Linked DNA regions of Homo sapiens: regions 1 and 3 are each linked to region 2. The links come from fine-mapping of genetic effects on gene expression. A gene starts in region 2. Each other region holds a variant in brackets. All regions are shown on one strand. Distances are from middle to middle.

Region 1 (2,758 bases), 41 kb after region 2:
ACTTTTGGCTTTTTCTAGAGGAACTCAGAAAGTTGTATTTGGAAGGAGCTGGAGGTAGAGGTCTGGGGCCAGCACTCTTACTGGGTTGGGGCTGGGTAGCAGCGAGGGAGGCGCCGATGGGAGATGGCTCAGGCCGGCCCTGCTGGTGCTCCTGCCACAGTCACTTCCTGCCAAAGTGTTGAAGCCTTTCAGAGTCAGGAGGCCAGCTGCCATTTCTCAACCCAAAGCAACACACTCTGACCAGGATCAAGTTGCTAAGAAAAGTTCTCTGATTGCCAGTGTTTGGCCAACAAATAGATTCTCATCTTCCTCTCACCAGGACATCGTGGGAAGGGGTCCTGTTTGTGAGAGTGTTTAAAGGCAGGAGCTTGGTGCCTGACTTCTTGGCATTTCCTGCCTCTCCTCCCTCCGGCCTCTTCCCACTTCCCTCTCTGTTCCTGGTTTTATCAGCACTGTGCACCATCTACAGGGGTCTGGAGTGATATGCACGGGGTAGGGGGCCCTCTCAGCTAGGTTCTCCCAGTCCAACTTGGCTACTGTTTAAGGTTTTCATTAGGATTTCAGTTGTTTCCATAACCTGTGATGGAGGGAATTGGGAGGTGATCTTACGTATCGTATGATCTTTGCACAGCACTGTAGACCTAACTTCACTGTATCCCACGCTCTATAATCTCGCTTTGATGCCACCAGGTTGGCCGTTTACTTGGGAATTTGTGTACTGATGCCAACAAGGATTGAATCCCCCCATCCCCCATGCTGGCTGGCTCCTCTGTTCCACTCGGTTCTGTGGACATTGCTCAGCATCTCTTATGTATAAGGCACGAGGCTGGCTGCAGTGGGGAACAGAGCAGCTTGGAGAGCCCGAGTGCACAGGTGGGAGTGTGCGCTTTTGCCCACAGGTGTCAGCGACGGAGGATGGGAATGTCACCAAGGACTCCAACGTGGTGCTGGAGATCCCAGCTGCCACCACCATTGCCTACGGTGTCATTGAGTTATACGTGAAACTGGACGGCCAGTTCGGTGAGTGCCACCTCCTATGGGTGCTGAGGGATCCCCAGCAGAGGATCCCTCAGCAGAGGGACTTGACTGCTTTCCAGAGGACTCGACTGCTTTGGAGACTGTGGGAAGAGAGGGAAAGAGGTCTGAAGAGCGTAGATTGTCCCAAGACATGGTCCCTGGACACATGGGCTGCACTGGGGGAGGGGTGTGGTGAGGGATGCCTGGAGCAATGCCACCCTCTCCTCCAACATTGGTGTGGGGCAAAGTTCCACCAGCACAGTAGAGGGCTGGGCTGTGTCCTCTGGGCATCAACCTGGGCTCTGCATCAGACACACTGGGCATCAACCCCGGTGCCATGATGTCCTATGAGGTCTCAGGCAAGTTGCTGAATCTTGCTGAGTCTTGGCTTCCCTGTCTCTGGAAGGTGAAGGGCATTTCTTCACAGGGCTGTGTGAAGATTTAATGAGATGAGGCCTATGAAGCGCCTGGCACAGTGGTCATTTA[TTAA/A]TTCCTCCACCTTTGCTATTAATAGCATTATCATCATTATTGTTACCCCACCTCCTCTCCACAAGTATGAAGCCAGACATGCTGAACTTGACTTTCCTCTGCTGATCACGAGTGTGTTCAAAGCGCAGAGACCCAGCTGTTGTCACGGAAGAAAATCCAAGCTTTGGTTCAGCGTGTCTGCTCACTTTAGGTGTTCACAGCCCCTTCCCTCCTCATGTTCCCAATGAGAAGAGGTTGTGTTCACTCATGAAAGCTGTGTGACCGCTCCTTAGGGACATGAGTGGGTAAATGTAACATAATAAATTGTGAAGTTTTTTAGGTGTGACAATGGTATTATAGTTATATTTATAAAAATGAGTCATCCTATCTTTGAGAGATGTACACTGAAACATTCACGGATGAAATGGTAATATGTCTGTGGTTTGATTCAAAAATAATATGAGTGGAGCATAAAGGGTGTGAGCATGGGCAGCTGCCGAGGGAAGGAGGCTTGGCTGAGAGGGGACAGTGGCTGAAGCTGGCTGATGGGCACACGCTGGTTCACGCTCCTCCTCTCTATTCCTGTGCAGTTTGACATTTTCTGTAACAGCAGTTTTTAAAAGGGCCGTGATAGACCACGCACATGCCTGCTGCTGCCTCCTGCTTCTCCCCCATTTGTGGAAGGCGGGTGGGGGGCAGTCTCCCGTGAGACAGCTCCTGCCCTCGCTAAGCCCACATGAGTCACTACGCCATTCAGCAGCCACTAGAGGGACTCAAACAGAATGCTCAGTGTCCTCGTGTGCTGCTGTCCACAAGCTGAAGGGTGTTGAGGATCCCTAGGAGAAACAGGCGAGGCACAGAAGGAGTGCACAGAGTCTCCCTCTCTCATTCTGCAAATGAAGAAGCCTGCATTTTAGGGCGGTGAAATGATTTATCTGAGGTGACAGAAAGAGAAAGTGTCAGTTTGAAGCAGTTGGTCAAAGAGGTCTGTCAGGGACCAAGAAATGCTGAGAATACCAGGTGTTGTGGCTTCCTTGAGGCCCGTAGTTCCAAATTTGTGTCCTCTGGGGCGTTTTCGTTATTATTGTCATCTTTCTCTTTGAAAAGACTTGTCTTCCAAAAAAAGTGCATCATGAAGAGGATCAAATTGTTCTTCTAGTCTCTGTTATCTGTATGTGGTAAGTAGGGTCACCATCTGCACTTTTGGGTTTCTAGCCCCCCTATGTCTGCCTTGGTGGTCCTGTCCAGTCTTACTGATGGCCAGTGGTGAATG
Region 2 (2,758 bases):
TTACAGGAGAGGATAATACATGAAATAAGAGGCACACAGTCTATCAGATGGTGGTGAGTGCAAAGAGAAAAATAAAGCAGAGGAGGAACTAGGAGGTGTTCCCGTGGGTGGGTGGGCAGCACTTTTAATTTGGATAGTCAGGAAAGGCTTTACAGTGAGGTGGATAATTGCAATCTAGAGATATGTTTAAAGCATAGCGGGGCCCAAGGGAAAGCGCTGCCGGGCTTCTCTACCTGCCCTCCCCGAACAGCCTTTAAGACAGCCACACAACTCCATACTGTGTGAGCTCTCGCAGGGCAGAAATTTCATTTTCTCTTACTCTTTGCTCTCAGCTTAGTAGAGAGCATTGCACAGTGAAGACGATACACTGACTGAAAGTGTCACTGAGCAATGGGCTCGTAACCTGAGGCACACAGAAACCAAACTGTGGCACAGGCTTTTGAGAAAAGAAAAACTTCTATTGCCAGTCAACTGGCAAGGAGACAAGAGGCAAAGCTTAAATCTGTCTTCTGGACCTGGGAGCGGGTCAGGCGTTTTTGGCATTTCTAACCAGTCCCAGGTGATGCCAATGCAGCCTTCTGCGGGGCGCGCGGTGTTCACAATTAGAAAGCTTTCCCTCTTGCACACGCCCGGGAGATTTTGGCTCTGCCTCGCTGTAACAACTTAAGTAATGGTTAATCGGTTTCAGCTGGTCCTAATGTTACAAAAAGAGCTAATATTTAAGTCAGTTCATCAGAAAGCAATGTTTGAGCACCAGCTATGCTGAGATTCCCTCGTTCAGTATTCGTTGAGCACCCAGTGTGTGAGAGCGCCTGGTTTTGCCCTCAAGGAGCTTAGAGTGGAGTTTACAGGAATGAATCACTGATTAGCGGCAGGCCTAAGTGTGGGCACTGTCGCACCACACACCCAGATACTACTCCAGGCACGGGCATTAGGGGCTCCCACAGGCTGGACAGGCCTTGGACTTTCCTGGTTGAACCGTGAGGCCGCGGTGTCAGTCCACACTCCACTGTGGGTGGCGGGTTCGGCCCCGCGAGGAGGCGCCGCTCTCAAACCCCACGGTCCCGCGCAGCGAAGAGGCGAGGCGGCCGCGGAAGGCAGGCGCAGCCCACTCTTCCCGAGAGGCCCCGACATCTCCCGGGTGAGTCCCGAAAAGCGCGCGGGGACTCCGGCTGAGCGCTGGGCCGTCAGCAACCCGGCTCCCAGAGAGTCACACGAAGGAGGGGAAGCGGCTCTCTCTGGGGCTTCTGGGAGGTCTGGCCCGGGCCCCTCCCGCAGCCTCCGGCGGCCAGTCCCGCGGCTCTGGGGCGCCCGGACCGAGCAAAGGTCCCGGCGGGCGGGCCCTCTCTCCGCCCTCCCCAAGCGCCCGCCCCCCGCCGGCCCAGCGCAGGCTCCTCCGACTCCGCCAGCGCAGGGGGCGCGGCTGCCGGGGACCCAGCAGCGGGCGCGCGGGTAAGTGCGCGGCGGGCGCGGGCTGCGGGATCCGCTCCGGGCTCCACTCCGGATCCTCTTTGGTCTGTTTGGGTGTCCCGGGCCGGGGGCAGCCGAGGCCGCGCGGCGCTTTCTCTCTGGGCCACCCTCCCCTCGCTCCTTCCTAGGGGAGACGAATCGATTGGCTGCCCGGCCGCCGGAACGGCAGGTCCCGTCGCTCCCCTCGCCTCCCGCATTCCCGGCCCGGTCCCCTCCCATCACCGCGTCCCGCCCCAACTCGCAGTCAGCATCCCCTTCCCATCCTCTCCCCGTCCCCGCTGCCACTTCCTTCCTTGGATGTTGGAAGCGCAGCTGGTATTTTCGTTCTCCCAACCCCCCAAACCCCCCCTCCCCATTCGTTCATCCTTTGTGTTCCGGTCTCTTCTCTGGGTGCTGCGGAGGCTCTCCCGGCTCGGGGGCGTGTGTGCAGGGAGGCGGACCGCGGAACAGATACGGAGTTCAGTCTCTCTGGACGGAAAAAAGTCCCCCTCCACTTTGCTCCGGTATCTAGAGAGCTCCTAGCTTGGGGAGGAGGCCAAGCCCCACTCGGTGTGCCTGGCATGCGCTGGAATGGCTCTCAAGAGCTGCCCGCGTGGCTTCCTTTGGTCTCCATTTGAGGACCTCTGACCCTTTCCAGAGCCGCTTGCCGTCTGCACCCCGAGGGGAAAGACTAGAGGGCACCTCTTAGAAAAGCGCTGGTTGTGGACTGAACACACCGACCACCCACTCCTCCAGAGTCTACTCTGTCCAGAATAGTGAATGGGATAATGAAAGGGATGGATGGCTTGCGGTCGCTGTCCTCGAGACGCAGGCAGGTGGGGCAAGTCCAAGTGGAATGAAAGGAGTGCTGTGGGGTTGGAGAAGCAGCTGAAGAGTGAAATTAATTGTCTTCACAATCTACCACCACCAAGCTCTTTTTCTAAAGGAGAAGTTGAGCCCAGACCATTAGGTAGATCTGAGAGAGAAAGGGCCCAACCCCCTAGCCACGGTCCCTTGGCTAGGTTCTTTGTTATTGTTGAGAGAGGGTCTCGCTCTGTCACCAAGGCTGGAGTGCAGTGGCACTATCCTAGCTCACTGCAGCCTTGAATTCCTGGGCTCAAGGGATCCTCCCATACACCCGTAGCTGAGACCGCAGGTGCCTGCCACCACACCGCATCTTCTCTATTCTTACCCAGACTGCCCTCTGTTACCCACTCCACTTCCCCAAAGCCTTTGGCGCCTCACTCTCCTTCTCCTTTCGAGCTCCTGCCTGTCTTATGACCATCATTGCGTTCACATACCGATTTTT
Region 3 (2,758 bases), 34 kb after region 2:
GGACAAACATTAAACCACATTGGAGCAGGGAACCGATTCCGGGATGACTCCAGGTCTTTGTGTTATATCGACCTGCCAGGTACGCGCAGAAGGGCAACCTCACAGTAGAACTGGGTGGGCGGAGTTGAGCCAAGCCCCTGAGTGAGGAGAGGGAGTTCTTCTCGACTGAGTATGCACCCCCTTCCCCTGCCTCCAGACTTGCTCCTTTGGGGCTGGCCCTTTCTGTTGAGGATATACGCCTCTGCCTCAGTGGCCTCCTGTTCTTGCTTTCACGTTGCCGCCCCCGCCAGGAAGAACAAGGAGCCTGCCCTTAGATGTGTGAAGCGGATGAAGAACCTCTGCTTGTTCATTTTCTCCTGGAAGAGCTTCTGCTCCATTTTCCCTGTCTTTGGGCATTGGCTCCTGGCTGGACTTGGGGAGAGGGTCTCATTCCAGTCCTGCCCGGGTTTATGTGATAAACCATTCATTTTATCCCCCAGCTGGGTGGATAGCACAGGGCTAGGCACCAATAAAAAGAGCAAGTACTTTGTCCTCCAGGAGCTTACAGTCTGTCCAGAAGGCCTTTTTTTAAAATACTTTTTTTTTTTTTTGGAACTGGGCAATCTATTCACATGGTTTAAATGTCAAAAGGTCAAAAGAGAAAAGGTGAAAAGCCCCTCCCCGCCATCTGGTTCCCCACCCAAGAGGCGACCACTACTAATAGTTTTCTGTGTCTCTAAAGCCATTCTGTCTGTGTTGCTCAGTGGCTCTCACAGGGCCCGAGAGGAAAGAAATCAGGACAAGTTGGGGAAGAACTGTCAAATGGCACAGGGCGGCAGCCACGAGGAGAGTGAGATGGGCTTGGGGAGAACAGGCAGGCATGGATATTCTGATAAGGATTCCCAGAGGACTTGGGTATAACTTGCTTTTCCAGCCTCCATCTACTGGTCTGGTTACATAGGCAAGATATTTACATATAGAAATGAACATAGCAATACAAGAGTTAATAGAGATGAAGATTCAATTCCTAGTACAGCCCAAGGGTGCCCTCACCCAGAAGAGGGAGACAGCAGCTATGGGTGCTATGGCCATGTGGGCCATTGTAAAAGACCTGGGCTTCACAGCTGTGTGACTTTGGTTACTACCATCAACCTCTCTAGGCTCTTTTTTTTTAAACTCTTCTGAAACCCTCAACTGAGAGTTTTAAATGTTTTGTTTCATGAACTCTATTAGCAGTTGAAGAAACCCATGGGCCTCTTTAAATGCTTATAATAAAATATATAAGGTTATACAGTAAACAAATTGCATTGAAATTTGGCTGGTTTCTGCACTAGGCGGGCACAGGGGAGCCCTGTTGCATGGTGATTTCTGTTCTGAGGAGGGCCAGAGCCAGGGTCTGGTGACCTTGAACTGTTCTGGGTCTGCACCTGAGAACACCGTCCCCAGGGGACACCAGCTCTCCCCCTGGGGCTGCTTGGGGCTTGGTGGAATTGACTGAGGGAGGAGATGGGGAAGAATTCCCTCCCGAGATTGCTTTTCAGAGAGTCAAACGAAAAATCCATTTTCCCTGATGTGTAGCTTCCCCGCTGTCCCTGTGGGGCCTCTCCTAACTGAAGATGATTAAATATTTCCAGCATTTGGTTTCCAAA[AG/G]GTGGCAGCACTGTCCTGGGAAACAGAATCCCAGTGACTTGGGTGGAAGTGTTTGCTGCTAGGTGGATGATGCCTGCAGTTTCCGGCAGCCCTGCCTTGGTTGCCCAGGGAAGGATTCCCAGTGGCCTGCATGAGCTGTGGCTGTGTGACACGTTTCTGGTCACCCGAATCCTAGCCTTGGAGACAGTCTCCGTCCCTGGGCGAGCTTCTGTTCCTGCGCTGTGGTGGGTCCGCCCCACAGAGACCTTTTGAAGGCAGCGACTCAGCAAGCGTCTCAGGACTGCCCTGTCATCGGATACAGCAGGCAGTTGCCTGCCCACCTGCGTAGATGGCTGCCCCTCTCTTTTGGTGTTTGAGGTGGGGGTTCTGGAGGGAGGTGGGCATTTTAAGCAGTGGAGTCTTGAGTAGTCTAGGCTGAGCTTTTTCTTTTCAAACAATTTCACACTGGCTAGGAGCAGTGTCCAGTGTTCAGTGGATTCTGTTTAGGGCGGGTAGGAGGGCTGTGATTTCCAATCCAGCAGAGTCACATCAGACTCCTAAAGGCGGCAGTTGTGGGGTCGTCACCAGGCGGTGATGTGTCTGACGTGCGTCTAGCTGGGAGGAGCCCATGCCTTAGTTGTGAGGGCACAGACAGACGTTCAAGAATCTGCTAGAATTTTGAGCAATAGAAGGAAGAGACCATTGGAAAGGGAACAGTTGAATGTATGTTCTGACCGGTGGTTACAATGGCTTTTATCTTTAAAGTCTTTGCCTATGGGACCAAGACATGCAATCCCTTAGGAAGATCGCATCTGCTATGCACCATTTTTTGATCCAAGCTGCAGATCCTCCATTTCCCCCATCTTCCGTGTCTTCTGTCTTTCACACGTGGATGCACAAATACATATGTACACATTCATTCAACCAATAGAGGAAAAAACCTCACAAGTTTTATTTACTCATTTATTCCAAAAATATTTCCTGAGCTCTTCCTACGTACTAGGCATTGATCCTGGCCCTGAGATATGCAGTCAACAGGAGAGCACACTCACCACCTCTGTGGGGTTTATATTCTTGATGGAGGAGGCAGGCCATGAGCAGATAAATGAATGAGCTAGAAAAATATCCTGTGGAAATGTGCTCTCCAGAG

The links.
Region 1: its variant is fine-mapped to the expression of GSDME in whole blood (TOPMed, PIP above 0.99).
Region 3: its variant is fine-mapped to the expression of GSDME in thyroid (GTEx, PIP 0.94).

The regions. Positions count from the first base shown.
Region 1 is chr7:24,715,516-24,718,273 of GRCh38, reverse strand. GSDME (gasdermin E) reads left to right here. Exons shown (of 10, transcript NM_001127453.2): 5 at 900-1,020. Among named protein-coding and RNA genes, the nearest start is that of GSDME, 41 kb to the left of the region's middle. RefSeq lists an enhancer at 7-594. The variant TTAA/A (reference allele first, on the strand shown) is at 1,504.
Region 2 is chr7:24,756,090-24,758,847 of GRCh38, reverse strand. GSDME (gasdermin E) reads left to right here and starts at 1,384. Exons shown (of 10, transcript NM_001127453.2): 1 at 1,384-1,452. LOC124901820 (translation initiation factor IF-2-like) reads left to right here. Exons shown (of 3, transcript XM_047421177.1): 2 at 911-1,186; 3 at 1,279-2,524. The coding sequence ends at 1,992. RefSeq lists silencers at 235-384, 1,195-1,774, 1,785-1,834 and an enhancer at 885-1,114.
Region 3 is chr7:24,722,007-24,724,764 of GRCh38, reverse strand. All of the region lies in intron 3 of GSDME (gasdermin E), which reads left to right. Among named protein-coding and RNA genes, the nearest start is that of GSDME, 34 kb to the left of the region's middle. RefSeq lists an enhancer at 1-381. The variant AG/G (reference allele first, on the strand shown) is at 1,629.